4 separate regions of the Homo sapiens genome follow, and all the other regions are reported to be linked to region 3. The links are microRNA targets in miRTarBase. Many come from high-throughput screens and were not tested one by one. Region 3 holds a microRNA gene; each other region holds the end of a gene's coding sequence.

Region 1 (7,737 bases), not on the chromosome of region 3:
TAGGGAACACAGCCCTGCTGGCGGCTAACCTGCTGTTTGAGATGCTATGTGCTCTCCCCAAAGTGACAACCGTCTGAGTCTTGTGCTCTTCAAGACAAAACAGATTGCGTCGCTGACAAGTTCTCAAGAAGAACTTATGAGTAAGCAGTCTGAGAACTAAAGAGTTTATGCCAAGAAAACTTTCTGCTGAAAGTGTCATTGCTGGCTGTGAAGTCGGGATAATCAGTAGAATTCTCACCCAAACAGCAACATTTCTAAGGAACTTGGATTAATTGGGGGAAAAAAAAAGGAGTACTTGTACTGCTTTGATTTTTTTTCCTTTGATGAAAGATGGAGGATAAAGGGGAAGTGAGGAGAATTTCTTTCAAGATTATCTAAACATTAGAAACATGACATTTAAAAAAACTATGAAATAATACTGTATAAGCATTCCATATTTCTATATCTTCCTTTTAAACATTTTTTTTTTTGAGATAGAGTTTTGCTTGTCACCCAGGCTGGAGTGCAATGGCATGATCTCGGTTCATTGCAACCTCCGCCTCCCGAGTTCAATCGATTCTCCTGCCTCAGCCTCCTGAGTACCTGGGATTACAGGTGCCTGCCACCACGCCTGGCTAATTTTTGTATTTTTAGTAGAGACAGGGTTTCACCACATTGGCCAGGCTGGTCTTGAACTCCTGACCTAAGGTGATCCGCCCGCCTCAGCCTCCTTAAAGTGCTGGGATTACAGGCATGAGCCACCGCACCCAGCCGCTTTTTAAAATTTTGATGATCTGCTTCCTAGAGTATTGAGTATCTTCCTTTAAACTACAGCTCCTCCTCGGACGCTGCAGTGAGCTGAGATCGCACCACTGCACTCCAGCCTGGGTGCCAGAGCAAGACTCCATCTCAAAAAAAAAAAAAAAAAATACAGCTTCTCCTATGAGGTGCTTAGGGCTGCATCTTGGTTTTAGGACCACTGTGAACGTAAGTAAAAAGTATAAAGTAACACGGAGAGCCTAATGAAGAAACTTCTTGCTCAGAGGCCTAGAAGGGTACACAAAATGTCTTCTAAACTAGAAAACCTAAGGCTGGACACGGTGGCTCATGCCTGTAATCCCAGCACTTTGGGGGGCGGAGGTGGGCAGATCACTTGAGGTCAGGAGTTCGAGACCAGCCTGGCCAACATGGTGAAAACCCATCTCTACTGAAAATACAGAAGTTAGCTGGGCGTGGTGGCGCGTGCCTATAGTCCCAGCTACTCAGGAAGCTGAGGCAGGGGCATTGCTTGAACCCGGGAGGTGGAGGTTGCAGTGAGCTGAGGTCATGCCACTACACTCCAGCCTGGGTGACAGAGTGAGACTCCGTCTCCAAAAAAAAAAAAAAAAAAAAAAAAGCAGGCCGGACCCAGTGGCTCACGCCTGTAATCCCAGGCCTAGGCGGGAGGATCACCTGAGGTCAGGAGTTCAAGACCAGCCTGGCCAACATGGTGAAACCCCGTCTCTACTAAAAAACAAAACAAAACAAAACAAAACAAAAAAACCCCAGAAAACAAAACAAAACTGGAAAATGTCAGCTGGGCTTTTTTTTTTTTTTTTTTTTCTGAGATGGAGTCTCGCTCTGTCCCCCAGGCTGGAGTGCAGTGGCCCGATCTTAGCTCACTGCAATCTCCGCCTCCTGGGTTCAAGCAATTCTGCTGCCTCAGCCTCCTGAGTAGCTAGAATTACAGTCATGCGTCACCACGCCCGGCTAATTTTTGTATTTTTAGTAGAGACGGGGTTTCACCATGTTGGCCAGGCTGGCAGCTGGGCTCTTAATGTTACTTATTGTAACTCACTTCCTGTAAGACTCAATCTACTCTTCAAGTTGATGTACCCTCTATGACTGTAATTCCTGAAATCTGCAGTTATGCTGTGGTGATCTTAAGCGTGTCTTGAGTTCCATGCAAATTCAATTCTGTTGATAATGTGTCCATAATCAAATCATCATCTTGCAATGCAAGGGCTACCCCATAATTATCAGACATTAAAATAGTTTATTTCTTTTTCCATTCTGTAATCTTAAAATAACATCAGCTTCAGTGCCTGTTCACAATACAAAAAAAGTCAAAAAACAAAAACAACACCCAAAACATAAAAAAGAAACAATTTGCCAAATAAGTTATTTGTTCCTAAGAGTATCAAAAGTGCAAAATATTCACCTTCTTTTCAGATCTCTCCCAAGCATAATTATCCTCCTTGACAAACTGAACAGACAGATTCAGCAGCTGCCACACTGCACTTGTTTTTAGGGGACAATGTCAGACAGGTGGATGTGAACTACAGTTCCTCTGTAAAGATGTTTGGCATCAGCTTTTAAAGAATTCTAGTTAACAAAACAGGTCTGAGTATGTGCTTCCAATCTCTATTCCCAAACAAAGGAAATCACTAAAAAAACAGATCACACTTCTTTTTATAACAGAAAAATATTTATGTAATGATGGCAGCTGCAAATTGATTGGGATGTTAATAAATAAAAAGGAACAAGTATCAACAAGCTGCAAATGAGGAAGAAACCAACCTACCTGAAAACTACAACCAAATTCTCATGGCTAATAAGTGATGGCAGTGAGACCATGGCCCCTAATGGAAGTTAGGGCAGCCTCACCCACTGAAATGTTGTTTAGTTGGAGCTGATAGCCTCAGTGTTAGATAAAAATTGTGCAACACCTGAGCAACAAATTTTTTTTTTTTTTTGGAAATTGGCATGTATTCTGCAAAGACTTGTTTTAGGCCAGTTTTACCCCATCTGCTAAACGCAATGCATAGTCTGTATCAACCAGAAGAACCCATCTCTAAAAACATCAATGTTGATAGTCAAAGACCACTGTGTTAGAACCAAAATCAGGTCTTGTATGATTACATACATCAGACAGAGCAATGGTGGCACAGGCTGAGCATGACAATGGCTCATATGTTTGACGCAAAAGTAAACAAATTCATGGATGCATTCAGGAGGAATGCCTTGCATGGACAAGGGTAAAGTTCAATTTAAAATAAAAGCTCCCTAATATTCTCATAGGGCACCAGCTCTAAACCGGTCTGTAGAAGAGCTTTTGGGCTGAAACATCTGCCAGGAACATTGCCAATCCCATCACTACCTTCATTTCCTAGTGCAAATGGAAGGTGCAGCTGTTTGAAGGTGCTTTTTAAAAGATCAAAAGATGACTTGAAGAGATAAAAATGTTTAAAAATGAACAAATCTGGCATGGTGGCTCATATTGATAATCCCAGCACTTTGGGAGGCCAAGGTGGAAGGACTGCTTGAGGCCAGGAGTTTGGGACCAGCCTGGGCAACATAGCAAGACCTCGTCTCTATTAAAAAAAATATAAATAAATACACTTGGAGAGTTTTTGGTTTTCAGAAATTAAAGTCAGGAATTTCATTAGTACAGAAATTAAAAATAAAAACCTACTACCAAACCAAAAGACCACTCATATAAGCAATCTGGCCATAAAATACCTAGAAAGTAATATTGAGGACTGATGTATCAAGGAGCCAAATGAATTCCTTGACCATTTCTAGTTGGACCAGGTGCCATGAGATACAGCATTCAGAGGAAGTGTCCATTTTTAGAGGATCATATGGAAGAATGAAGCCTGGCAGTGATTTATTTTTTAATAAAGCTACAGACTCCATGAAAACTACAGGAATTCCTGGCCTTAAATAATTTATTACTTACCAATGTAGCTCAAGATTTAAATTATTCAGGATCCAAGTGGCTTAGTTTAAAGCATTAAGATTAAAGAAATACTAACTTAGCCGGGAGTGGTGGCTCACGCCTGTAATCCCAGCAGCACTTTGGGAGGCTGAGGCAGGCAGATCACCTGAGGTCAGGAGTTCATGACCAGCCTGATCAACATGGAGAAATCCCGTCTCTACTAAAAATACAAAATTAGCCGGGCTAATTACATGGTGGCACATGCCTGTAATCCTAGCTACTCAGGAGGCTGAGGCAGGAGAATCACTTGAACCTGGGATGTGGAGGTTGCGGTGAACCGAGATCGCACCATTTCACTCCAGCCTGGGCAACAAGAGTGAAACTCTGTCTCAACAACTAAAAAAAAAAAAAAAAAAAGAAATACTTAGTAAATGTCCCATCACTGATTTTCACCCTTCACAAAGCCACCAAAGGCACCTTGCTTTGACATTTGAACGGACCACTCTTTGAAGCTGTCCAAACTCAAACTCAGAACCACTGGTCATTCTGCCCTGAAAAATAAAAGGTATGCTCTCTAACTGGCTGGTATGAGGCACCCTGGGGTCCACTATACCTGGAGCTCAGCACGCTCAGGTGCTGATGGCCAGTCTGACCCCAATACTGGTGAAGCAGCTCTAAGTTAAGAGTGAAAACAATGAAGATGAGACATCAAAATACAGCCCAGAAGTGGAAAGTAAGCCTTTTGCAAAATGGGAGTCTAGAACAAATCTTGGCTCACTTCCTGCAAAAGATGACTTGAAGAGACAGCACTTTTAGGGTAACAGTGTTCAAAATACAATTGTTGAGAAATTTTAAGTTCCTTGATACAAAGACATGTTTGGTATTTTACTAAAGAGACACTATTGAAGAGATTCCTTAAGCCTGACTCATAGCAGGTGGGAATAATTTCTCTTCAGTTTAACATCTACTGGCTTTATAGCAGCTTATCTCTACGTTCAGAGAACAAGATTACAAGTTATGGCTCCTAATATCCATACCCTAAAATCGACAGAGGCAGAAAGGCATCTGAAGACATACATGTCAACGGCTCAAAGTCATCACAGTACTTCTCGCTGTGCAGACCCCTCCCCTGGCTACCAGCAGCGCTGGGGCGGCGGATGGGATGCTCACAGCGTGTCTCAAGGCTGCATCGCTTCAGCCACTGCTCAGCCTCCCTTTCCTTTTCTTGAGAACTCACATGCAGAACTCCCGTTTATTCCTTTCCTTTTCAACCTGTGGCCAACAAACTGTTGTTGGGGGATACCCCCAAAATATACATTTAGCCACTTACTCCCAGAACAACCAGTAAACGTGAGATTGCTTGGAAAGGGGCCTTTTTCCAGATGCGGGGCTAGAAGCTGCCGTGGGTTGTTCAGAGTTAGGAGCATGCGCCATGGCAGCAGCACAGCAGGGCCGGGATTGGGGAAGGGGCCAATGACCTGGCCTGCACGACAGGCTCATGAGGGTCCGCCAGATGCCGCTTGCAGGGTGGAGCCCTGTGCTTCTCCAAGACACAGGACAGGAGGGTGGGGTGAGCATGGGACAAGGACAAGAAAGGAAGAGGGGATGAGCAGTCTATTTTCAATGGTGTGGCATTCAGTGGGGAAAAATAACACCCAGAGGAAAAGATTTTCATCTAGGCGATTCAAACTGGTGGTGTTTTTCATTCCTAGGTTAGAACAGGACAAAGGAAAGATTCTTCTAGCCATGGTTCTAGAAGAGCAATCTAAAATCTATACTCTGTTCATTGTGGTAGTTTGAGTCCTGAAAATACCTGTTCACAGGGGCATGTTAAAAAGTCTGAAGAGTTCAAATCTCTTTGGAAAATCCTCTCAGTCTAGTTCAGGCCATGATGGGATATAAAACCTCTGTAAGGAGCCCTCCAGCAGGCGTTCCATCCATAAAGAGAGCTTGCTCAACTTTCCTTTGATGGGCCTGGATCCAAGGCCACAGGAAGGTTTCCCTCGAGATTCACCCAGGTAGAGGGAAGAGTCAACATCACTGCACGACCCTATGGCTTCCTCCTCTTCGACTGTCTTTTGGGGCTTGAAGAGGCAGAAGTATTTCTTGTGGCCATTCAGAGCCAGTACATAACCAGTGTAGTCACGCTCCATGAAATGCTTATCATATTGGTTTGGGATTGGAGCTGCATCTTGAGCAAATTCTAGTAAGTATTCTAGCCATTCTCTGTGTTTATCTAGACTCAGGAAGGAGAAGTGTAGGCAGCTGCTCCTGTAGGAAGAAGAGAATTGAGGACTCAGGGCATTTCCTGACACATTTAATTGCTGAGAAAATAAATACCCCAGTGAGACTTAAAATAATAGGAAAACGCTTTGTGTTGGATGGGGCCTGAACACAGAGAAAAAGAAGGCCTTCTGTGGGAGCCAGTGCCTCTCCAGCAGCTGCGACACTTCAATCACCCATTCCCCCATCGCTTGCTCGGTGGAACTTAACATTGCTCTTCTGGAAAATACACAAGGGCTAGAGAACAGTAACTGAAAGGGCTCAGGGAATAACACTGAGTTCAAGCTTTTCTGTTCAGAACCAACAAAACACGAAGTGAAGTGGGAAAAGAGGTCCCTGTCGCAATGGCTCAGATGTCTGGATTGGAAAGGTCACAGCCAGCATCTTGCTGTATGGATGAAGCCCCACAAGACCAAAGAGAAAAGCGTGCAATTTCAGTGTGCCTGCCTCTCTCTCTCTCACACACATACATACATGCACACACACACATGCTTACCCAGTAAATGTGTAGACCTCCAAAGCAAATTTCTGTAGTAGGCTGGTCTTGGTAGAATTCGACAGGATGAGGACCACATTCATGTGGCCTGGCCTCAGACGTACCAAGTTACTGGTGTATGTTACATCTGTGAGTTCAGTTACCTCCACAAAGCCTTTTTTAGGAATCTTGCTGTGGAGAAATATTGAGGAGTTAAGATGCTGTCAGGATAGGGGGAAAGCCGTTACTTTGAAAAGAAACAGCTGAAAGAAAATGCTATGTTCTAACCAGACTAGGTATGTTATTCACTATTCTTGAGTCTAACACATTGGTAGGATGGGGATGGCCTGACTTGGTAATCCCTGACCTACAAACAGCCTTTCTGTGCTGCTTTTCTTTTTCTTTTTGAGATAGGTTCTTGCTCTGTTTTCCAGGCTTGAGTGCAGCGACATGATCATGGCTCACTGCAGCCTCGACCTCCTGGGCTCAAGTGATCCTCCTACCTCAGCCTCCCAAGTAGCTGGGACTACAGGTGCCTGCCACCACATCCAGCTAATTTTATAAGTTTTTTGTAGAGACAGGGTCTTGCCATGTTGCCTAAGCTAGTCTCAAACCCTGGGCTCAAGCAATCCTCCCACCTAGGCCTCCTAAAAGTCTTGGGATTACAGGCGTGAGCCACTGTGCCCTGCTTGATGCTGCTTTTCAGGTGCAGAAGTTGCTCTAGGACAGAATGAAGAAGACAACTATCATTCAGTCTATGTTCTTTGTCTCGGAGACCCTGGCCTCTTGCTGCTGGGTGTGTGTGCGCACAAGACTGGTTACGTTCATTGACATTTACAGGGATAAACCACGTCCTGCTTCTGGCTCACCTAACACTTGCCTGATAGGCTTCTTTCCTTCTGCCTTCATTATGAAATCTAAGGCATCTAAACACCTACAGGGTCTTAGTAAACACAAATCACAGTGACTTTTCCCTGTAGCCACAGTTTACATGGGAGGAGGTGCATGAGAGTTCTTCTCTACACTCTATGTTCCAATGCTGCGTTATCAGATGACAGGATCTGGGGGGCAGGTGCCGGGGAGGTGAGTCTGGTGTTTTGTTAGAGAAACCTGCTGTTTTCTTTGGTGAAGCTTGGCTCAGTTTTCCCAGTCTTCTCTTGGGCTTCCTCTTTTTCTGGAGGGCTTGACTCTCGCTCATCATTAGAGTCGCTAAAGTAAGAAAAAAGGAGTTTTACAAAAAAAGTGTCAACACCAACCATGGTGGTGCACCGAGAAGCCACAGGACATTTACCTGAAAGCC
Region 2 (7,737 bases), not on the chromosome of region 3:
AAGAATGTAGATTTTCTGGATCTTTTGTACCAGATCATTCACCACAAATGCTGCCCACCAGGAGCGTATGAGAGGACCTCTTTTCTCTACATACTCTCCTATACTAGGTGTTATCAATCTTATTTTGATCTTTGCTAATTTGACAGTTTATATATATGTATGTAGAGATGGGGTTTCACCATGTTGGTCAGGATGGTCTCGATCTCCTGACCTCGTGATCTGCCCACCTCGGCCTCCCAAAGTGCTGGGATTACAGGTGTGAGCCACCGCACCCAGCCAAGTGTGTGTGTGTGTGTGTGTGTGTGTGTGTGTGTCTATATATATATAGACTGCAACCTCAGCTTCCTGGGATCAAGCGATTCTCTTGTCTCAGCTTCCCAGCAGCTGGGATTACAGGCGCATGCCACCATGCCCAGCTAATTTTTATATTTTTAGTAGCGATGGGGTTTCACCATGTTGCCCAGGCTGGTCTCGAACTCCTGATCTCAAGTGACCTGCCCACCTCGGCCTCCCAAAGTGCTAGGATTACAGGGGTGAGCCACTGCACCCGACACCAATTGTATATTTTTAAAGAGACAGGGCCTCCCTATGTTGTCCAGGCTGCTCTCAAACCCTCAGGCTCAAGAGATCCTCCCACCTCAGCTTCCCAAAGTGGTGGGATTACAGGTGCGAGCCACCATGCTCAGCCTCGATGGTTTTTCACAAATCACATTTAATTAGCAATTCTTTGTGTTGAGCTTTATATGTTTATCAGACATTTGTACTCCTTCTTTGGAGAATTGCAGTTTAAGTCCTCTGTACATTTTTTCTGTTGAGGTATTCATTTGCATGTGGTTGAGGTTATCAAACAATATCCATATCAAGGATCTCGGATTGTTTAAGAAGTGAAAGCAATATTTCATTTTTATTTCAAATGTGCATTTCTCTGATTATTAATGGGTCTGTACATTTTCTTTCTGTCTTTTTTGTTTTTTGTTTTTTGCAGGCGGCGTCTCGCTCTGTTGCCCAGGCTGGAGTGCAGTGGCTCACCACAACCTCCGCTTCCCAGGTTCAAGCGATTCTCCTGCCTCAGCCTCCGGAGTAGCTGAGACTACAGGCATGCACCACCATGCCCAGCTAATTTTTGTATTTTTAGTAGAGACGGGGTTTCGCTATGTTGGCCAGGCTGGTCTTGAACTCCTGACCTTGTGATCCACCTGCCTCGGCCTCCCAACGTGCTAGGATTACAGGCGTGAGTCACCGCGCCTGGCGGTACATTTTCTTGTATTTGCTCATTTGATTATGTTTCATCTTTTGTAAATCCTTAGTTGATCTTGTTTGTTTGTCATTTTCCCCAGGCAGTTTTAAGCTGTGGACAATCAGCCCATGTTTAAGGTGGCTAAGTTAAGCTTCAACCTGACCCTGGGGCTGGGCCTCGTCCTCACCATCTGGTTGCACCTGCCCTACCTGCCCGCTGTTCAAAAATTGCCCTTTGTGGGCTTCGGGACCATCTTGAGCTTCTGTGAAGGTGCCTCCTAGCTCTGGAAAGGTCCTTTGTTTTCCTAACCCCCATCTTCCTGGGCACTTCTCCCTCTTCTTTGGGGGTGGTATGAGGGTTTTGTGGGTGGTGGGAGAACAGAACCGAGAATCGAGTTACATCATTTCTTGGTCACAGGAGAGGTAGAAATGCAGGGGTTGACTCCTGGAACCTCAGGGCCAGTCACTCTGTGTGTGGTGATGTGGTTTGTGGCTGTAGCCTAGCAGATGAGGAAGAACCTCCTGTGGGACTCTTGTATGACAATGAGACCCTCTGCCTCCTGTCTCCTAGTCACCTTCATCTTCTCCACCCTCATGCTATTCCCCATTAACATCTGGATCTTCGAGTTGGAAAGGAATGTATCCATCCCCATAGGCTGGAGCTATTTCATTGGTTGGCTGGTGCTTATCCTATACTTCACCTGCGGTGAGTGGCCAGAGGGCCCTGGGGGAAGGAAGCGACATGGGTAGGGTAGGGCAGGGAAAGTGTGGAGGGAAGAGGCTGGCAATCCCCAGGGCTAGATTTTTAGGGTCTTATCTTCCCTTTGGTCTCACCCTACTTGTCACTTAACCTCCCAGTCACAACTTTCCTCTCCCCTGTCCCTGTCCTTTCCCAGCGATCCTTTGCTACTTCAACCATAAAAGTTTCTGGAGTCTGATTCTGAGCCACCCCAGTGGTGCCGTGTCCTGCAGCAGCAGTTTCGGCTCAGTAGAAGAATCTCCAAGGGCACAGACGATCACAGACACCCCCATCACCCAGGAGGGAGTCCTGGATCCTGAGCAGAAGGATACACATGTGTAATCTTTTCTGAACTCCTGGCACCAAGTTCTGTCCATTCATCTGACCCCATCTCCTCATCCTCCCCCAGCCCTTGAATAGGTTGGTCCTCATCATTGCAAGGAATGAGAAAGGGAGGATTTTGCACTCCTCTGCTTTCTCCCTGCCTTGATTGAGCTTGAGTGATGTGGAATAAATTGTCCGTCTCTTCTTTCTCATATCTGGCTGTTGTTGAGGCAAGCTAGAGGAGGAGGGAGAGGAAGGGAGAAAGAACAAGTTTGTTTTCCAGTTCTTCCTGCCCAGGAGCCTTTTGGCACCCGTTAGTGCCTAAACCTGCCCAACCTCTACCAGAACATACTTGTACATGGGCAAACGCCTCTGGAGAGCTAAACCTCTTTTTACTTTGTTACCCCTGACCCAACATTTGCTAGTTAGTGGGTGGAGGAGGTAGAGCTGATTAGGAGACAGATATCACTTGCCAACTTGTTGGCTTAAGCATAGTGAAGGATTCAAAAGCCAAATGGCTCAAAGATAAGAGGCAGGTTAAACAAGGAGCACCACAGCACAAGTGGTCAGCCCAGGTGTGTGTCCTGGGCAGCAGTCCCACCCTCTGTGTCCAGCTCCGATGACAGAGCGCATAGAGCCTGTGCCCTGGAAACCACCACTACCACCATCCCCCCAGGCTGCTATAGCTTTCCACCCAAGCCTCCCACACCCTCCACCATGTAACAGCAGGAATAAAACATGGCAACAAAGGAAAGCATTAGGGTTAGGTCCTAAGACCAAAAGGTAAGTTGCATATTTGGGTTTTAAAGTTAGCTTGGGGAATGCTGGCAATGCCCATCAGGCTTTGGACATGTTGCCCAGAGAGGCCAGCCTCCTAGGAGAGCATCCATAGCTGATCTTGGTCATGTCTATCCCTCCAGATGAAACCACAATACATCCTGCTGATTGGTAGAGCCCAGTGGTCTGTTTTGATAGGGCGCTGATTGGTGCGTTTACAATCCCTGAGCTAGACACAAAGGTTCTCCACGTCCCCACCAGAGCAGCTAGATACAGAGTGTTGATTGGTGCATTCACAAACCCTGAGCTAGACACAGGGTGCTGATCGGTGTGTTTACAAACCTTGAGCTAGATACAGAGTGCCAATTGGTGCATTTACAATCCCTTAGCTAGACATAAAGGTTCTCCAAGTCCCCACCAGACTCAGGAGCCCAGCTGGCTTCACCCAGTGGATCCCACACCGGGGCTGCAAGTGGAGCTGCCTGCCAGTCCCGCGCCGTGCGCCCGCACTCCTCAGCCCTTGGGTGGTCGATGGGACTGGGCGCTGTGGAGCAGGGGGTTGGCGCTCGTCAGGGAGGCTTGGGTCGCACAGGAGCCCACGGAGGGGGTGGGAGGCTCAGGCATGGCGGGCTGCAGGTCCCGAGCACTGCCCCGCGGGAAGGCAGCTAAGCCCCGGCGAGAAATGGAGCTCAGCGCCGGTGGGCTGGCACTGCTGGGGGACTCAGTACACCCTCCGCAGCCGCTGGTCCGGGTGCTAAGCCCCTCATTGCCCGGGGCCTGCAGGGTCGGCCGGCTGCTCCGAGTGCAGGGCCCGCCAAGCCCACGCCCACCCGGAACTCCAGCTGGCCCGCAAGCGCCGCGCGCAGCCCGGGTTCCCGCTCGCGCCTCTCCCTCCACACCTCCCTGCAAGCTGAGGGAGCCGACTCCGGCCTTGGCCAGCCCGGAAAGGGGCTCCCACAGTGCAGCGGTGGGCTGAAGGGCTCCTCAAGTGCCGCCAAAGTGGGAGCCCAGGCAGAGGAGGCGCCGAGAGCAAGGGCTGTGAGGACTGCCAGCACGCTGTCACCTCTCACAGGGACAAATTGTGAGTGGATCAGGTATGTTAAAAATATATGTATTAGGTTGGGCCGCGTGAGGTGGCTCATGCCTGTAATCCCAGCACTTTGGGAAAACTAGGTGGGCGGATCACTTGAGGTCAGGAGTTCGAGACCAGCCTGGCCAACATGGTGAAACTCCGTCTCTACTAAAGATACAAAAATTAGCCGGGTGTGGTGGTGCATGCCTGTAGTCTCAGCTACCTGGGTGGCTGAGGCATGAGAATCGCTTGAACCTGGAAGATGGAGGTTGCAGTGAGCCGTGATCGCGCCACTGCAGATTGAACCATATATGTTGTGTTAGTAGTTAAATGTGGCAATTTTATATGGTTCAACCTAATGTATATGATCGACTTTATTTATTTATTTATTTATTTATTTATTGAGACGGAGTTATGCTCTTGTTGCCCAGGCTAGAGTGCAATGGTACCATCTTGGCTCACCGCAACCTCTGCCTCCCAGGTTCAAGCGATTCTCCTGCCTCAGCCTCCCTAGTAGCTGGGATTACAGGCATGCACCACCATGCCGGCTAATTTTGTATTTTTAGCAGAGACGGGGTTTCTCCATGTTGGTCTGGCTAGTCTTGAATCCTGATCTGCCCGCCTCAGGTGATCGGCCCGCCTCAGCCTCCAAAGTGCTGGGATTACAGGTGTGAGCCACCACGCCCAGCTGACTTCTATTTAATATGAGCCCTGTCTGAGATTCTTGTTCTTACCACACCTGATCAGCAATTGTAGCATTCCTAACCCAGGAAAGATTCCTAACAAAGGAAAGATTCTGAGCAAGGAACATAATACAAGGGCTTGAAAATTAGGCACAACAGATATTCCACAAATCTCTACTCTGTATCCCACTTTAATCCTCTCCCCAGTAGCGAACAAGGATTTACTAGGGGACTTACTGAACTAGTCATCCTGGAGGAAGGGACACCAAATAAAGGAATGTCATGGTCTCTGCCTTAGGTACAAACACACGTATGTATAATGTAATTAGAGAAACTGACTTAGTGATTTTGTAGGGGTCACAAACTCAAATGCATACAGGGGCTAGGTGGGTAACATAAATAAAGGGGGCCACTCTCACAGTCTGTATATAATTTTTCCCTTTTGATAAAGATCTGGTGTATTAGCTATTTATTGCTGGATAACAAATTACCCCACATTTAGTGGCTTAAAATAATAAATATTTATTATCTCACATCATATCTGAAGGCCAGGAATGTAAAAGCAGCTTAGCTGAATAATTTGTCAAAATTATTTAAAAAATTTTAAAAAACTTTTAAAAATTATTTTATCATATACAACATGATGTTTTGAAATAGGTTTACATTGTGGAATGGCTGAGTTGAACTAATTAATGTATGCATTCCCTCACATACTATTTTTTGTGGTGAGAACACTTAAAACCTACTATCTCAACGTTTTTCAAAATGCAATACATTGTTATTGACTATAGTCACCATGTTGTACAATAGGTCTCTTGAACTCATTCCTCCTAATTAAAATCTTATAGTTTTTTTTTTTTTTTTTTTTTTTTTGAGATGGAGTCTCGCTGTCTCCCAGGCTGGAGTGCAGTGGCGCGATCTCGGCTCACTGCAACCTCACGCCATTCTCCTGCCTCAGCCTCCCGAGTAGCTGGGACTACAGGTGCCCACCACCACGCCTGGCTAATTTTTTTGTGTTTTTAGTAGAGACGGGGTTTCACCGTGTTCACCAGGATAGTCTCGATCTCCTGACCTCATGATCCACCTGCCTCGGCCTCCCAAAGTGCTGGGATTACAGGTGTGAGCCACCGCGTCCGGCATTTTTTTTTTTTTTTTGAGACCGAGTTTCACTTTCATTGCCCAGGCTGGAGTGCAATGGTGAGATCTTAGGTCACTGCAATCTCTGCCTCCTGGGTTCAAGCGATTCTCCTGCCTCAGCCTCCCGAGTAGCTGGGATTACAGGTGTGTGCCTCCATGCCCGGCTGATTTTTTGTATTTTTAGTAGAGACGGGGTTTCACCATCTTGGTCAGGCTGGTCTTGAACCTCTGACCTCAGGTGATCCACCCACCTCAGCCTCCCAAAGTGTTGGGATTACAGGCATGAGCCACCACACCCGGCAATCTTATAGTCTTTGACCAATATCTCCTCAGTCACATCCTCCCCCAGCCCCTGGCAAACACCATAATACTCTTTGCTTCTATGTGTTTGACTAAATTAGATTCTACATGTAAGTGAGATCATGCAGTATTTGTCTTTCTGTGCCTGGTTTATTTCACTTAACATAATGCCATCCAGGTTCATCCATCTTGTTGTAAATGACAGGATTTCCTTCTTCTTCTTTTTTTTTTTTTCTGTTGAGACGGAGTTTCTCTCTTGTCGCCCAGGCTGGAGTGCGATGGTGTGATCTTGGCTCACTGCAACCTCGACCTCATGGGTTCCAGCAATTTTTCTGCTTCAGCCTCCCAAGTAGCTGGGACTGCAAGTGCCCACTGCCATGCTTGGCTAATTTTTGTATTTTTAGTAGAGACAGGGTTTCACAATGTTGGCCAGGTTGGTCTTGAACTCCCGACCTCAAGTGATCCACCCGCCTTGGCCTCCCAAAGTGCTGAGATTACAAGCATGAGCCACCACGCCTGGCCTGTGGACATATTTTATTACCATTACATTTTGGTATAAAAAATATCTTACAATAGGAGGGCATAATTAGAAATGGCAACTGGAATTTCATTTTAATTTTGGGAGACAAGTGGGATTGGGATATCCCGGAAAACTGCCTTATGTAACAGGGGAAGGTGCAACTCAGCTCCATGGGTTATTGCTGTGAGGAACATTTGTCATATGGAGCTGCTCAGCATTCATATGGTTTTCCTATTTGGGGAGAATGTCAACATAAGTGGGAAGTGGAGTCGCTTCCAATTATAGAAGGTGCAGGAGGGGAAGACACACCTGGGACCGCTCTCAGGCAGTCAGAGTGCCAACGTATGACTAAGATTATTCACCTGCGGCAGGGCACGGTGGCTCATGCCTGTAATCCCAACACTTTGGGAGGCCGAGGTGGGCGGATCACTTGAGGTTGGAAGTTCGAGACCAGCCTGACCAACATGGAGAAACCCTGTCTCTACTAAAAATACAAAATTAGCCGGGCGTGGTCATGCATGCCTGTAATCCCAGCTACTCGGGAGGCTGAGGCAGGAGAATCACTTGAATCTGGGAGGGGGAGGTTGCAGTGAGCCAAGATTGTGCCGTTGCACTCCAGCCTGGGCAACAAGAGCAAAACTCCATCTCAAAAAAAAAAAGATTGTTCACCTGCGACTTTGTATCCTTTTCATTAAGTGCAAAGAATTAAGGGAATATTGGAATCACTGTAGTCCATGCAGGATCCTGCATCCTGCAGCAGAGGTGACAGGGCCATTGTCTAGGGGGGACAGCACAGGGTTTTTCTCCCAGAAAACTCATGTGGCATGACTAGGGTTGTAGCTCTGGCTGCTTAGCCTCCCTTGGTTCTTACTCCTCTAAGCCTGTTCTTCAGCTTTCTGTAAGTTATTTCATATCCTTCCTTTTCTGCTTAAGTTAACCAGGGTTGATT
Region 3 (7,737 bases):
AAAAAAAAAAAAAAAAAAAAAAAGATTGACTTTACCACAAACCAGGTGGAAAGGGTCTTGGAATTGGGTTTATTTGAATAAAAGAAAATGTTTACCAAGTGACATTTCCTACATACCTAAGTTTATGAACAATAATTCATACACCCTATAAGAGTTCTTATTACTTGAATAATGAAAAAAATAAACAAAAGAAAACAAATCCTGCTTTACATGTGCAAAAATAGAATCTAAGAATGGAAATAGAAAGATGAAGTGAACTTTCTACTTCTCCCCAAACTCTTCATGCAGGCACACCATGTTTAATTGCTGCTTATTTCTCAGCCTCCCCCAGGATTTTATAATAAATTCTAACATGCACCAGAGTCAGTGTGCACTTCCTCTGTTCTCCCTTTGGGTGGAAGAAATGCTGCTAATGAGGAAGGGCTCAGCTCAGATTTGTTTGATGACCAGAAAAGCTGACTCTTCAATCTTCCTCCCTGTTTTAGCACAGGCACACCTGTTTTTTCACCCTGCCTCGTTCCAGCAGGAATTGCCCAGTACCCCATGTGAACCCAGCGACGCCAAGGCTCCTTAGCCAATGAGAGTTCTTCATTCTTCTGCCTGCGATTTAGGACTTGAATGTTTGCCTGCTGGGCTGCAGCACGTGAAACTCATTACGCAGCTTTGAAACCTGGCCTCCAACACAGAAGGAGAACAGCCTGTTCATGAGGAGAAGTGCTGTTTGTTTCAGCTATGGGTGCCAAAAAAGAAAAAAAAATCAACTGTTCCTTATTTGGCCATTTTAGGGCATAAAATCTCTGTTTTCCTCATTTGCCTCAGGGGCTCATGATCCTGAGCTGGGATCTTAAGGGGTTCAAGGTTAACAAGTTTTTGGCCGGGACGGTGGCTCACGCCTGTAATCCCAGCACTTTCGGAGGATGAGGCAGGTGGATCACAAGGTAAGGAGTTTGAGACCAGCCTGGCCAATATGGTGAAACCCAGTCTCTACTACAAATACAAGAATTAGCTGGGCTTGGTGGTGCACGCCTATAGCCCAGCTACTCGGGAGGCTGAGGCAGAAGAATCGCTGGAACACGGGAGGCGGGGGTTGCAGTGAGCTGAGATCATGCCACTGCACTCCAGCCTGGGTGACAGAGCTAGACTCCGTCTCAAAAATAAAATAAAATAAAATAAAATAAAATAAAAAGAAAAAAGTTTTTATTCTGTTAACAGCTATGACAACTTTATTAGTGACATCTGGGAGCACTATTTATAGTCATTTCCCAAGACTATATGAATGATTCTTCAGTTTTACATCCATTAGTTTCAATGACTTGACATGATCTAAATAATAATTTGAAGAGACAAATAATTATAAATCCTAAGAAGGGACTTTGAAGGGTCCTATGATAAAGTCCCTGGTTTTAAGATGATTATCTCAAGCAAATTAAAATCTCAGCTCACTTTTCTTTAAGATCCCCAGGGAATGAGACACCTTATCTTCCCTAAATATATCTCACTATAAAACTGTTGATCATGGCAGAAAACTGCTCGGTCAGCATAAGTTTTCCCATTAATTTTATGTGTGTCTAACTTTCTAAAGTTAGCCATGCACTTCTACTAAATGGAATGATCCTGATCTGGACTGAAAAGCAACCATGGGCAATTATCATTTTGAATAAATGGAGGAAAATCAATAGTTATTTCTTTTTCCATGGAAATGGAAATACTGAGGCCACGGTGCACTGGCTGCTGTAAAATATGTATCATTAGACTCTCTAAATTCATAAGATATAAATGATTTACAACAATCATAATTCAACAGGAACACAGTCAACTTTCTCAGACTAAATGCTTTTATGCCCATGAATTGGAAGTATGCATGATGGTCTTTGCTTGTACATGTTGCTATTTATTTATCCTGAGTCTTTCTATGTCATTATTGCTTTATGATTTGTCCTTTTTTATAGCTTTTTAGTATCTAGTCGCTTCTATTACATCTTTGTGTCAGGTTGAAAATCAGAGCTAAAAATAAAGCCAGGGAAATCAAACAGTGATGCTTATAATAACAAGTTATTGAGCACCTACTTGCATAGGCTAGGCACTATGCAAGGTTTTCAGAATGACCACAATGAATAAGACACAGGCTGTGCTCTATAGGATCTCACAATCTACAGAAGATGAGAGACTGTGAAGGCAGATGGGAGACTATGAAGGCTCCATTCTACCAAAAGGAGCTGTATGTGGGAGAGGCTGATATAGAGCACAGCAAGAGCATGGAGGATGAGGTGAATGTGGGCCCAGGAGGATACCAGGGTATGAGCTGGAGGGAATACTAGGGATGGGAGTTGTGGTAAGATTACAGAGAGGAGAAGATTTTTAATCTGAGACTTGAAGGAATTTAGGTTTTGGCCAGGTAGTTAGAGTGAGAAGAGAATGAAATTTTAGTAAATGTCAGAAAGAGACAAAACCACATCCAGTAGGGTATATCATTTAAGGGAAACTGTAAGTATCTTGAAATGGATGGGACATACGATCTACATGGTGTTATGTTAGGAGAAGCTATAAAAACAGATGAAAAATATGAAAGGTAGTTAGCAATGAAATAAGGAAGATATTGGGTTCCATCAAGATAACAGGTTCCTATGTTATGCTAGGAACCTATTGTATCTGACCAACAACAGTAAACATTGCTGACTTTGAGACCAAAATGCCAGTCAAACATTGGCAACCCAAATCTTTCTAATCTGAAAAGGGAGCTCAAAATTCTTCCCTGAATGTAAAAGTGTCTAAGAAGTCTTAGAATGGTGGACAGCTCTCCTGTTGGGACCTACTTGTTTACAAGAACTATCCCAGTCCCTGAACAACTAATTCCAATGTAGAAAAGTCTCTTTGCTGAAAAAAGGGAGGTCTTTAGCTTGAATAGGAAAATGGGTGAGATAAACATGACAAGTCAATACCAAGAAACCAGTTTCGCTAAAATTTGCTCTGTTCCCTCAAAGTTATTTTTTTGGCTTCATTATTACCTTTATTGACAAAGTAACTTTTCATTAACAAGCATGACAAATATTTCAGTTACACAGCCAACTGTGTCAAGTCGTTTCATATAATGAAAAAGCAGGGATATAGATTGTGTTGTTTATTCCTCACAAATTATTCTTTAGAGGGAAGACCCTCTAAAAGGCGGAGAAAGCTTTAAACATGTTTACTTGACAGCACCTGAAAAATGATGTCATTACAGTCTAAAGTGAACTGATCATCAATTTGGTATTTGTGTTTTGGAAGGCCTTTCCCTTGACTGTTTGAGGCAGTAGAAAGTTTGCATGATTGGGCTGAACAGATTGTAGCACCCACAGAAGGAAATAAGATGTTCTTGATATACAGTCATGTGTTGCATAATGACACTTTGGTCAATGACAGACCACAAATACAATGGTGGTCCCATAAGGTAGTAATAGAGCTGAAAAAGTCCTATCACCTAGTGACATCTTGATGATTCTGACCCTGTGCAGGCCTAGTTTAATGAGTGTGTTTGTGTCTTCATTTTTAAGAAAAAAGTTTAAAAAATACAAAGATAAAAAATTTTAAAGACAGAAAAAAGCTCATAGAATAAGCAAATGAAGAAAATATTTTTGTATAGCTGCATAATGTGCTTATGTTTTAAGCTAAGTATTATTGCAAAATAGTCTAAAAGTTTTAAAACGTTAAAAAGTTTACAAAGTAAAAAAGTTACAGTCAGCTAAGGTTAATTTAGTTTTGAAGAAATAAAATTTAAAAAATAAATTTAGTATAGCCTAATTATACAGTGTTTATAAAGTTTACAGTAGTATACAAAAATATTCTAGCACTCACTCAGTGACTCACCCAGAGCAACTTCCAGTCCTGCAAGCACCATTCATGGTAAGTGCCCTATTAAGGTGTACTATTTGTATCTTTTATACTATGTTTTTATTGTGTCTTTTCTATGTTTAGATACACAAATACTTACCATCGTGTTACAGTTGCCTACAGTATTCACTACCACATAGTAACATGCTATACAGGTTTGTAGCCTACAAGCAATAGGCTATACTATATAGCCTAGGTGTGTAGTAGGTTATACCTTCTAGGTTTGTATAAGTACACTCTATGATGTTCATGACAAAATCACCTAATGATTCATTTCTGAGGATATAGTAACCCCATCGTTAAGCAATGCATGACAGTATATGTAACCTGTCCAGGGGAATCTTTGCTTCCTTTTCAAGTCACATGGTTTGGACCCAGAACTATTAGTCTTTGAGAGTATATTTCACTCCTTCCTAATTCCAGAGCTGCTTGGATGAAGTTCTACTATGACCTTTAACATACAGTGTTTTTCATCTCTCTTATGGGACAGTTATGGGCCCAATGATGGAAAATTTCATGTCATGGTTATCCCAATGCATTTGATGATGGTGCAATGATCAAAAAAGATGCCAGTGATGACAATTGAACGTCCCTTTGCCTTCCCAGCCTCCTTCATATATTCTCAGGCATAGGATGACAAAGGGAAGTCCACGAGTCACATGAAGAAAGACTGTAGCCATGGGTACGCGATCAGGAAGTCCTCTGCTTGCCTCCACCCCCACCCTCCTTTCCATCACCCTGTCCTATGGGTACATGATCAGGAGGTCCTCTGCTTGCCTCCACCCCCACCCTCCTCTCCATCACCCTGTCCTATGGGTACATGATCAGGAGGTCCTCTGCTTGCCTCCACCCTCACCCTCCTCTCCATCACCCTGTCCTGTGGGTAAATGATCAGGAGGCCCTCTGCTTGCCTCCAACCCCACCCTCCTCTCCATCACCCTGTCCTATGGATACACGATCAGGAGGTCCTCTTCTTGCCTCCAACCCCACCCTCCTCTCCATCGCCCTGTTCTATGGGTACATGATCAGGAGGTCCTCTGCTTGCCTCCATCCCCACGCTCCTCTCCAGCACCCTGTTGTATTTCTTCCTAATATTGTTTCTCCACCATCTTGCAACTAACCACCATCTTCTTCCCAAAGTTTTGCTTGATGACTCATTCCAACTGAATCAATGCTCAACCTATATTTGGCACAGAGTTGGTGCTCAAATAGTTGCTGAATGGAATAATGACCCTCAAACTCTCCAAGGTAACCAAACTTTAGGGGAGCCTTTTTAAAAAAATGAGATAATGCTTCCATGTGTAGGATGAAAGGAGAAAGTATTTTGGAATTATGTCAGCCTAGGTTTGCACCCAGCTGTGCCACTAATTGGATTTAAGGCAAAGGCTTAACCTCTTGGAGGTGCCATTTCATCAACTGTATAAAAGGAAGAAAATAATCCCTATCTTGAAGGGTTTTTGTGAGTATTAAAAGAGATAGTATATATGAAAATGCCTAGCATGGTGCTTGGAACCTAAATAAATGCTCATTCCCTCCTAGTAGTATCCCAATAGTGCCGTCAAGCTGTCCTATATGGTATCTTTAGGATGATAAATAATAGGGAGTAACTAATTTCTGATGTGGTTGAATGTCAGAAGAGATAGAGATAAAACAACAGTCATAGGGAGTGATACTGTTAGGAAATTATAAAGGAAATGAAGACTTCTGTGGTTAATTTCTTGGAGTTTAAGAAGAAATTCACATTTTCCATTAATTATACTTACCAACTGAGTCTAACTGGCAACTACCCCAAAATGAATAAAACAAGCGGGAGTCAAGAGAGAAAAACGGCAGGCATCCTGTCAAAAAATAAAATCTTTGAAATTTCTACACCCTGTGGTTGCATACACATTTTATTAAAGCAGATGGATTACCCAATTTACATAAATTTATATACGTGATGGCAACTCAAGTTGCACAGTGAAACCTATGTAGAGCATCATCCAGCCCTTCTGCACCAGCTATATCTTGTCTTATCACTCCTTCAACTGGACAGGTCCTTAAAAATCATAGCTCTTTGCTGGAGGAAGTATCATTCTTTATTCTCTTCCAGCCTAGATAGCTTCTGTGGTGTGGAAAGGGTCAAATGAGTTAATATCTGTTAAGTGCTTGTACTGATGCTTAGAACTTAGTAAAACCTCAAGAAATCTTAGTTGTTGTTATATTAATTATAATGATAATTATGAATCTTCCAATTCTGTGTTTTCCAGGAGACGATAGGAATTGAATTCTTTCCTTCCCTCCTTTTAATAACATTTTCCTGATTTCTAGAGAAATAAGTGTTCTAGTTTCAAGTGTTTAGCTACTTTTGACTTAAAAGAACTATCCATTTAGAGGCTAATCTACCCAGTTTCTTTTCTTTTCTTTTTAAAAGAGGAATTGAAACAAAGCTAACATGTTACTCAACATGCATAATATTATTAATTGGACTGATTCCTCTTTCTCTCTCTGGCCAAGGTATAGATATAAATATATCTACATCTATGACTATGTCTACATATCTTCCAAAAAAGTCATCAAAACCATTTCAGTATAATTGGCAGGTTTCCTACCAATTTGGTTATTGTTTCCCAAACTAGGAGATAAACTTAATGGTAATATCATATTTCTGGAGTTGCTAAGCAAGCTAGCCTTTGGTCAGATGGTCTCAGAGGAGGACCCCATGAGTATGAACAGCTCTGCTCTGCCTTCATTTTGTTCCTTCCTTAGAGACAGCATTAAGGGAAGATCCCAAATCCTCAAGTTAGATCTCTAGACCCTAGCTTCCTAGGATCAAGCTAGACTTTGAGAGCAGCCTCACTTGTGGCAAATATTGGGAAGTAGGAGTTTGGCAGCTGGTAGCTGGCTGGTGAGAGGCATGTAGGAACTCACCCACTTTTCATGAAACATCAACATCACTTGGTTATATGTCAGCACCCATACCCTGGCAAAGCTGCCTTCTCATAAGAATGTACTCACTGGGGAAAATGCAAAGCAATATCACTTGAAGCACAGCCTCTAAGGGTTGGTTCCTCTGGATTCTCAATAGTTTGTAAAATGGCCAACCAAGAGCAACTACTGTACATTTTCCAGAGAGTTCCTAATTAATGTGTTTCTGAGGACATAAATTCGGCTTTTAAGCACATACTCCCCAGGCCATTCTAGCACTGTGTATGGCAATTAGACTGCTGGCTTAATACTATCAGCAAAGTTTCAAATAGACAACACCACAAACCCTCCTGGAAATTTAGCACAAGCACTTGTTAATGGAACCAAGCACAACATTGGCTTAGCTATGTCTTTCCTGCAGAGTGAATGGCATGCTGGTATTTTCAGCTTCTTTTTCCCCCATTTATCAAACTCTAATGAAAAAAAATTAAGTAATACTTTAGTGAAGGTCAAGTGGGGTGAGATTAGTGGTACTATGGTTAAAAATGGAAATCTCTGGATAGCAGGTATGTGTTATGTCCGCAAATTGTCTCAATATTTTCTTAATTACCTTTCAGGACACAATAGAAAAAAATGGTCTTAAGGGGGAAAATTAGGAATAAAAAGTGAAACTAAGGTAGTGACACAAGGCTGGGCAAAGAAGAGCAGACAAGGAGTTTAGAGTTCAGGTTCAGATAAAAGCTCTACCAAGGTAATTCACGTAATGAATTTAGTCAGAACACGTGACTGTGATTTTTTTTACAAGTGGCTTTCCTATCTGCAAGATGAAAGCAATGCGCTAAGTGATGCTCATTGTCTGAATTCCTGTAGCACTTTATATTACTAAAGGGCACTTAACATCTACTGCTTTGTACTATTCACAATAGCAAAGACATGGAATCAACCCGGGTGCTCATCAGTGGT
Region 4 (7,737 bases), not on the chromosome of region 3:
TCCTTAACGGGAACTTAGCCATTCTTGGTCTCATTTTTCACGTTCCTCCTCTTCTCCCAGCTCTCACGTCCCCAGATAGTAACTGTACAGTTCTTTCTATTGAATACTTTGTACTGAACATAGCTTCAGACCTGAGGTAACATGTGCTCTTCTGACTCCAAGCTGGACCTTCCCATGCCTTATAATCCTGTCTGTAGCTCTGAGCAACAACCCTCCGCATTTTACCCAGATGTCAACTGGCAGGCAACTGGAGGAAAATCTTAGAAGCAAACTGACTCAGGGCTAGTTGATGGGAACTGCTTTCCCCAACACCCTCTCTAAAGGTCATTGATTCTTCTGAGCATCAGTCAATTCAGTATTTGGCAGTAAAACCCATATTAATAGGAACATGTGAAAAATGAGATAAAGAATGGCTAAGTTCCTGTTAAGCAAGGGTTTGTTGATCTTAGATGCTAAGAGTGTGTTATAAAAACCCTTTCCATTTACCTGAAGAGCCTTCTCTTCTTTCAGTGAGCAGTATGTTGTTCCCTTTAACAGATTACTCTATCACTTCAGTAATCAGTGTCAGTTTTTTAACCTTTTGACAGGAAGGTGCTGATAATTCTGGAGACATGGAGTTACTTGCTGCATCTATGGGATGTCCTTTTCTTAAAATTTTAATTAGTTGTCTTAGTCCATAGGTCTACTTTTTTAACAGAAAAGGTTGAAATTAGTTTTATAAAGATTAGCTTATGAGATATACATATATATACACACACACACACACACACACATTTTTTTTTTCCTTTGAGATGGAATCTTGCCTGTCACCCAGGCTGGAGTACAATGGCGCAATCTTGGCTCACTGCAACCTCTGCCTCCCAGGTTCAGACGATTCTCCTGCCCCAGCTTCCGGAGTAGCTGGGATTACAGGCGCCCGCCACCATGCCCGGCTAATTTTTGTATTTTTAGTAGAGACAGGGTTTCACCATGTTGGCCAGGCTGGTCTCGAACTCCTGACCTCGTGATCCGCCCACCTTGGCCTCCCAAAGTGCTGGGATTACAGGCATGAGCCACCACGCCCGGCTGCTTAAGAGATATTTCTAGGCTCTATGAGGTCAACTACTGCATCTTGATTACCACTGTATCTCAAGCACCTGGCCCAGAGCCTGGTGCATAGATGATGCTTGTTAAATATTAGTAGAATAAATAAATTTATGTCTGAAATTTAATATCTGCAATAATATATTGTTGATTCTATCTCAAGAATAATACAAGCCAAACCTGTTGAACCAGCACTTAAAGTTCGTTTTAAAAAGCAATTGTGAACCAGGAGCAGTGGCGCATACCTGTAGTCCCAGCTACTTGGGAAGCTGAGACAGGAGGATTGCTTGAGCCCAGGAGTTCCAGGCTGTAGTGTGTTATGATTGTGCCTGTGAATAGCCACTCAACTCCAGCCTGGGCAACATAGCGAGACCTCATCTCTAAAGACAGATACAGTCAATGAATGGATGGACAGAATGATGGAACTGTGGTGAATATAGTTTAATAATAGTGTGTGGTACATATCAAAATTGCTAAGAGTAAATTTCAGATGTTCTCACCACAAAATATGATAAATATTTGAGATGACAGATGTTAGTTTTATTTAATTAGTCCACATTTTATTCATGAATCATAATGTCACTTTATACCCTATAAATATATATAATTATAAATTGTTGATTTACAATAAATTTTTTAAAAAATCAATTGCGTACATCACTGATATTCTTAAACCCTTATTTGGAAGCTTCCCATGAATAACTTAAAGTTGCTGTGTTCTCTAGATGTCCCCAGTGTCCTAGACAGCACCAGTTAAGAACAGTGAGTGTTTTTTAACTGGGACTTCTTCCTGACCCTGAATTTTACTTGACTTAGTTTTTCCTCTTTCTCTCTTCTAATTCACAGAGCAGTAAAGAAGCCCTTTCAGAGGTGAACGCCACGGGAGTGGCCATGCTTTTCTCTGCCGGGACATTTCTTTATGTTGCCACAGTACATGTCCTCCCTGAGGTGGGCGGAATAGGGCACAGCCACAAGCCCGATGCCACGGGAGGGAGAGGCCTCAGCCGCCTGGAAGTGGCAGCCCTGGTTCTGGGTTGCCTCATCCCTCTCATCCTGTCAGTAGGACACCAGCATTAAATGTTCAAGGTCCAGCCTTGGTCCAGGGCCGTTTGCCATCCAGTGAGAACAGCCGGCACGTGACAGCTACTCACTTCCTCAGTCTCTTGTCTCACCTTGCGCATCTCTACATGTATTCCTAGAGTCCAGAGGGGAGGTGAGGTTAAAACCTGAGTAATGGAAAAGCTTTTAGAGTAGAAACACATTTACGTTGCAGTTAGCTATAGACATCCCATTGTGTTATCTTTTAAAAGGCCCTTGACATTTTGCGTTTTAATATTTCTCTTAACCCTATTCTCAGGGAAGATGGAATTTAGTTTTAAGGAAAAGAGGAGAACTTCATACTCACAATGAAATAGTGATTATGAAAATACAGTGTTCTGTAATTAAGCTATGTCTCTTTCTTCTTAGTTTAGAGGCTCTGCTACTTTATCCATTGATTTTTAACATGGTTCCCACCATGTAAGACTGGTGCTTTAGCATCTATGCCACATGCGTTGATGGAAGGTCATAGCACCCACTCACTTAGATGCTAAAGGTGATTCTAGTTAATCTGGGATTAGGGTCAGGAAAATGATAGCAAGACACATTGAAAGCTCTCTTTATACTCAAAAGAGATATCCATTGAAAAGGGATGTCTAGAGGGATTTAAACAGCTCCTTTGGCACGTGCCTCTCTGAATCCAGCCTGCCATTCCATCAAATGGAGCAGGAGAGGTGGGAGGAGCTTCTAAAGAGGTGACTGGTATTTTGTAGCATTCCTTGTCAAGTTCTCCTTTGCAGAATACCTGTCTCCACATTCCTAGAGAGGAGCCAAGTTCTAGTAGTTTCAGTTCTAGGCTTTCCTTCAAGAACAGTCAGATCACAAAGTGTCTTTGGAAATTAAGGGATATTAAATTTTAAGTGATTTTTGGATGGTTATTGATATCTTTGTAGTAGCTTTTTTTAAAAGACTACCAAAATGTATGGTTGTCCTTTTTTTTTGTTTTTTTTTTTTTTAATTATTTCTCTTAGCAGATCAGCAATCCCTCTAGGGACCTAAATACTAGGTCAGCTTTGGCGACACTGTGTCTTCTCACATAACCACCTGTAGCAAGATGGATCATAAATGAGAAGTGTTTGCCTATTGATTTAAAGCTTATTGGAATCATGTCTCTTGTCTCTTCGTCTTTTCTTTGCTTTTCTTCTAACTTTTCCCTCTAGCCTCTCCTCGCCACAATTTGCTGCTTACTGCTGGTGTTAATATTTGTGTGGGATGAATTCTTATCAGGACAACCACTTCTCGAACTGTAATAATGAAGATAATAATATCTTTATTCTTTATCCCCCTTCAAAGAAATTACCTTTGTGTCAAATGCCGCTTTGTTGAGCCCTTAAAATACCACCTCCTCATGTGTAAATTGACACAATCACTAATCTGGTAATTTAAACAATTGAGATAGCAAAAGTGTTTAACAGACTAGGATAATTTTTTTTTCATATTTGCCAAAATTTTTGTAAACCCTGTCTTGTCAAATAAGTGTATAATATTGTATTATTAATTTATTTTTACTTTCTATACCATTTCAAAACACATTACACTAAGGGGGAACCAAGACTAGTTTCTTCAGGGCAGTGGACGTAGTAGTTTGTAAAAACGTTTTCTATGACGCATAAGCTAGCATGCCTATGATTTATTTCCTTCATGAATTTGTCACTGGATCAGCAGCTGTGGAAATAAAGCTTGTGAGCCCTCTGCTGGCCACAGTGAGGAAAGTAGCACAAATAGGATACAGTTGTATGTAGTCATTGGCAACAATTGCATACAATTTTACTACCAAGAGAAGGTATAGTATGGAAAGTCCAAATGACTTCCTTGATTGGATGTTAACAGCTGACTGGTGTGAGACTTGAGGTTTCATCTAGTCCTTCAAAACTATATGGTTGCCTAGATTCTCTCTGGAAACTGACTTTGTCAAATAAATAGCAGATTGTAGTGTCTGGTTTGGTTTGGACAGTAGTGCTTTCTATCATATTGTTGTGTGCAATGGTAATTTGTTCTACTGGCCAAAGCCTCTTTCAGCAGTGCCTTGCCATCATGCTTAAAAGTTTGGCTAGTATATCTTGCTGGATGGAGCCTTGAACTCCGGCAAGGATTGAACCATCTGACTTCCAAATTTGCCTTCCCCTCTGGACCTCACTATTAACAAGCAAACCTTTCAGGGCCCTCTTAGCTCTCAGAAGCTATGTATGGGCTTTCCCAGATTTTAAAGCTGCTGCCTCGAGAACTACTCATTTCTCTCCTGGTCAGCAGACAGAAATAGCCATACTAATCTCATAGGGCTCAAATGCATCTTCAGGCAGCAGGGAACCAAGCAGCGTGGCACAGGCCTTCTTGACTGGAGGAAGAGCTTGCTGGCATGGTGGGCAGTATTCCAGGAGAGGCCATGTCCGTGTTCACTTCTTGGCACATTTCAGTTCCGTTTTCCTCTTGTTTAAAACTGCCTCTTTAGATGTGGATGCCTTAATGCTGTAACACATTTGAAAACATTGGCAATACTTAAGTTGCTGCCATGATTACAGATGGAATTATTGGCTACCAAAGAGACGCAATTGATGATGAGAAGCATGATTCTTGCTTCCATATAACCAAAGTTAATCTTAATTGCAATTTGACTCCGTTTCCTTGGTAGGGATAGACTTTCTTCAGATTCCAAGTGCTCTCTTAAATGGCAAATTAAGTTAAAGAATACTACTGCTCCATTCCCCTCACTTATTCTCCAGTTAATTGCTTGTCAGTTCCATTTCAAGAAAGCAGTGATGTTCCAGGTTTGATTCAGTTTTCCTGTGCACACTATTGCCAAATTTTTTTTTAGCAAAGATTCTGCACTGGAACGTAGACAGTTGGAAACAGTACTACCTACCTAGAGGTTATGTGTTTTCTCTTTCTCCCCGCTTTCACCTCTTTCTTTCCCAATTCAAAACAGCCAAGTGAGCCCTGTTCTGGTATTTTGAATCATTAGAGAAAAGAAAGGGAGTGGCTGTTTTGAGTTGTCCTTTCTTTGCAGAAAGGAGAAAATGTGATTGTGTTTTTTTTTTACCAGCCTACTTCTAAGTGTCACTGCCTGGTTTTTCTCTTTTTCAAGGATTAGAACTAAGAGGACACACCAGCATCGGAGTGTATTAAGCCCCTGAAACACATGGTAGCTAGGGACTGAACACAGGAACCGTATGACAGCAGCACAAACCCCCAAAGGATGTTCCTGCCTTGTGGGCCCCTGAGCCCCTTGGGAGACTGAGAATCATGACCAGATTCATCCAGAACTGCTGCAGTGTTAAGTGAAAATCCTCTGTAGTTGTTCTGCAGAGGAACCTTCCTTCCATTAGAAAATTTCTGCTCAATACAGAATGGTCCACATCACCCAAAGTGCACTGTTGGAGATGCTGTGAAATTAAAACCTCTTTGTACCTGAGACATCTAGATTCACCTCAGGAGGCCTGAAGGAAATGTGTAACTTGTGGGAAAGAACTAGACAACCATTTAGGAATTCTCTAGATATACTCAGCCTAACCCAGTGGCTTAACACAAGGAGATTGGCTTTGATCTTTTTTTCTTGTGGCATCTTCCAGCAAGTTAGAAGTCTCATGGGATAAGACTGCAGTTCCCCTGGTTCAATAGCTGGAACAGTGATTTTAAATGTCCCTTTTTCTGGATCCCTTGTAAACATGAAATCATTCCATGGATGGCTGCCTTATAATTTTGTCTCTTTCCACTTTAATTGTGAATGGTTAAAAAAATGCTGTTTTCTGATATTAAATTTTTATTAGTGCATACCTTAATCTGAGTGGCTCATTACTTATCCTTTTGGCAGTTTGTTTGATGACCAGAATTGACCTGTATTTGAACATCAGAAAAGAGAATGAAAAGTTGTGATGGATGGTAGAAAGATGTACCTACCACAGGCACATCCTTTAGGGAAGGGAGGGAGAAAGGAGAGAGGGGAAATTAAGGACTTGATAGACCAATCTGCCCTGAAAGACACAAATGCATTGATAATTGTTTTTGCCTTGCTGTTGTTAGCAAATATTATTTACGAAGGTAGCTCTCTCTACTCTCAGAAAAGAGAAAGAGGCAACAGATCCAAACCACAGTGGATTCATTTCATAGGGCAGAGTTGTTATATGAGTAGATAGATGCTATGAACAACTGACCCTGGAAATTAAAGAGATTTGATTAGAAACGTGACGTGTGAATTTGATAAATGTTTTTCTCCCTCTGTGGACTTATGGTTAGTCATTAGATTTCATTAAATACTACTGGCCCACTTTGTGCTGGTTTTCTATATGTATAGTTACATGTATAGCTAGTTACAAAGATTGTGCTCAGGGCAGGCATGGTGGCTCACGCTTGTAATCCCAGCACTTTGGGAGGCCGAAGTGGGTAGATCACCTGAGGTCAGGAGTTCGAGACCACCCTGGCCAACATGGTGAAACCCCGTCTCTACTCAAAATAGAAAAATTAGCCAGGTGTGGTAGGGGGGTACCTGTAAATCCCAGCTACTCGGGAGGCTTCCCTGAGATCAAAACACACACACACCTGGGCTTAGCCAAAATAGCCACCAATCCTTTTCTGTTTGGTGTCATTTTTATTTTATTTTTTCCTGCTCACATGATCTGTTTTTTGTTTGTTTGTTTTTTGAGACAGAGTCTTGCTCTGTAGCCCAGGCTGGAGTGCAGTGGTGTGATCTCAGCTCACTGCAAGCTCCACCTCCCAGGTTCACGCCATTCTTCTGCCTCAGCCTCCCGAGTAGCTGGGACTACAGGTGCCCACCACCACGCCCAGCTAATTTTTTGTATTTTTAGTAGAGACGGGGTTTCATTGTGTTAGCCAGGATGATCTTGATCTCCTGACCTCATGATCCGCCCTCCTCAGCCTCCCAAAGTGCTGGGATTACAGGCGAGAGCCACCACGCCCGGCCTGATCTGTTTTTTAATCTAGGTGCTGGTTACAGGGTTATAGCAGGTGAAAAAGCAGTACACATGATTTGTGCTTTTTACCTTATGTCATAGCTCAATAAAAAGTCTTTAAAAGTCAGTGTCACCAGGTGTGATGGTTCATGTCTGTAATCTCAGCCACTTTGAGTGGCTGAGGTGGGAGGATTGCTTGAGCCCAGGAGTTTGAGACCAGCTTGGGCAACACAGTGAGACCCCCATCTCTACAAAAAATTAAAAAAAAAAAATTAGCTGGGGCCAGGCACGGTGGCTCACGCCTGTAATCCCAGCACTTTGGGAGGCCGAGGTGGGTGGGTCGCGAGGTCAGGAGATTGAGACCATCCTGGCTAATATGGTGAAACCCCGTCTCTACTAAAAATACAAAAAATTAGCTGGGCGTGGTGGCGGGCGCCTGTAGTCCCAGCTGCTCGGGAGACTGAGGCAGGAGAATGTCGCGAACCCGGGAGGCAGAGTTTGCAGTGAACCGAGATCACGCCGCTGCACTCCAGCCTGGGTGACAGAGCGAGACTCTGTCTCAAAAAAAAAAAAAAAAAAAAAAGCTGGATATAGTGACATGCACCTGTGGTCCCAGCTACTTGGGAAGCTGAGGTGGGAGGATTGCTTGACC

Evidence for each region. The annotated mature microRNA hsa-miR-204-5p reads UUCCCUUUGUCAUCCUAUGCCU and lies in region 3 at 4,492-4,513, opposite strand. An mRNA with a match to its seed (bases 2 to 7 or 8) in the 3' UTR can be bound and repressed. Matches are read on the target gene's strand: a 7mer-m8 pairs with bases 2 to 8, a 7mer-A1 pairs with bases 2 to 7 and ends in A, and an 8mer does both.
Region 1: the mRNA of DNAJC16 is a reported target of hsa-miR-204-5p. Seed matches in the 3' UTR shown: 7mer-m8 at 4,891-4,897.
Region 2: the mRNA of ODF4 is a reported target of hsa-miR-204-5p. Seed matches in the 3' UTR shown: 7mer-m8 at 2,424-2,430.
Region 4: miRTarBase lists SLC39A9 as a target of hsa-miR-204-5p. Seed matches in the 3' UTR shown: 7mer-m8 at 2,768-2,774 and 7mer-m8 at 5,148-5,154.

What each region holds. Positions count from the first base shown.
Region 1 is chr1:15,565,991-15,573,727 of GRCh38, reverse strand. DNAJC16 (DnaJ heat shock protein family (Hsp40) member C16) reads right to left here. Exons shown (of 15, transcript NM_015291.4): 12 at 7,729-7,737; 13 at 7,548-7,646; 14 at 6,459-6,629; 15 at 1,995-5,950. The coding sequence ends at 5,551. It overlaps AGMAT (agmatinase (putative)), which reads left to right. Exons shown (of 7, transcript NM_024758.5): 7 at 4-2,029. The coding sequence ends at 77. Among named protein-coding and RNA genes, the nearest start is that of AGMAT, 15 kb to the left of the region's middle.
Region 2 is chr17:8,343,536-8,351,272 of GRCh38, forward strand. ODF4 (outer dense fiber of sperm tails 4) reads left to right here. Exons shown (of 3, transcript NM_153007.5): 2 at 1,808-1,942; 3 at 2,133-2,511. The coding sequence ends at 2,317. Among named protein-coding and RNA genes, the nearest start is that of ODF4, 7.6 kb to the left of the region's middle.
Region 3 is chr9:70,805,540-70,813,276 of GRCh38, forward strand. It overlaps MIR204 (microRNA 204), which reads right to left and starts at 4,545; the gene lies at 4,436-4,545. All of the region lies in intron 6 of TRPM3 (transient receptor potential cation channel subfamily M member 3), which reads right to left.
Region 4 is chr14:69,456,434-69,464,170 of GRCh38, forward strand. It overlaps SLC39A9 (solute carrier family 39 member 9), which reads left to right. Exons shown (of 7, transcript NM_018375.5): 7 at 1,930-5,957. The coding sequence ends at 2,160. Among named protein-coding and RNA genes, the nearest start is that of PLEKHD1, 24 kb to the right of the region's middle. RefSeq lists a silencer at 3,855-3,904.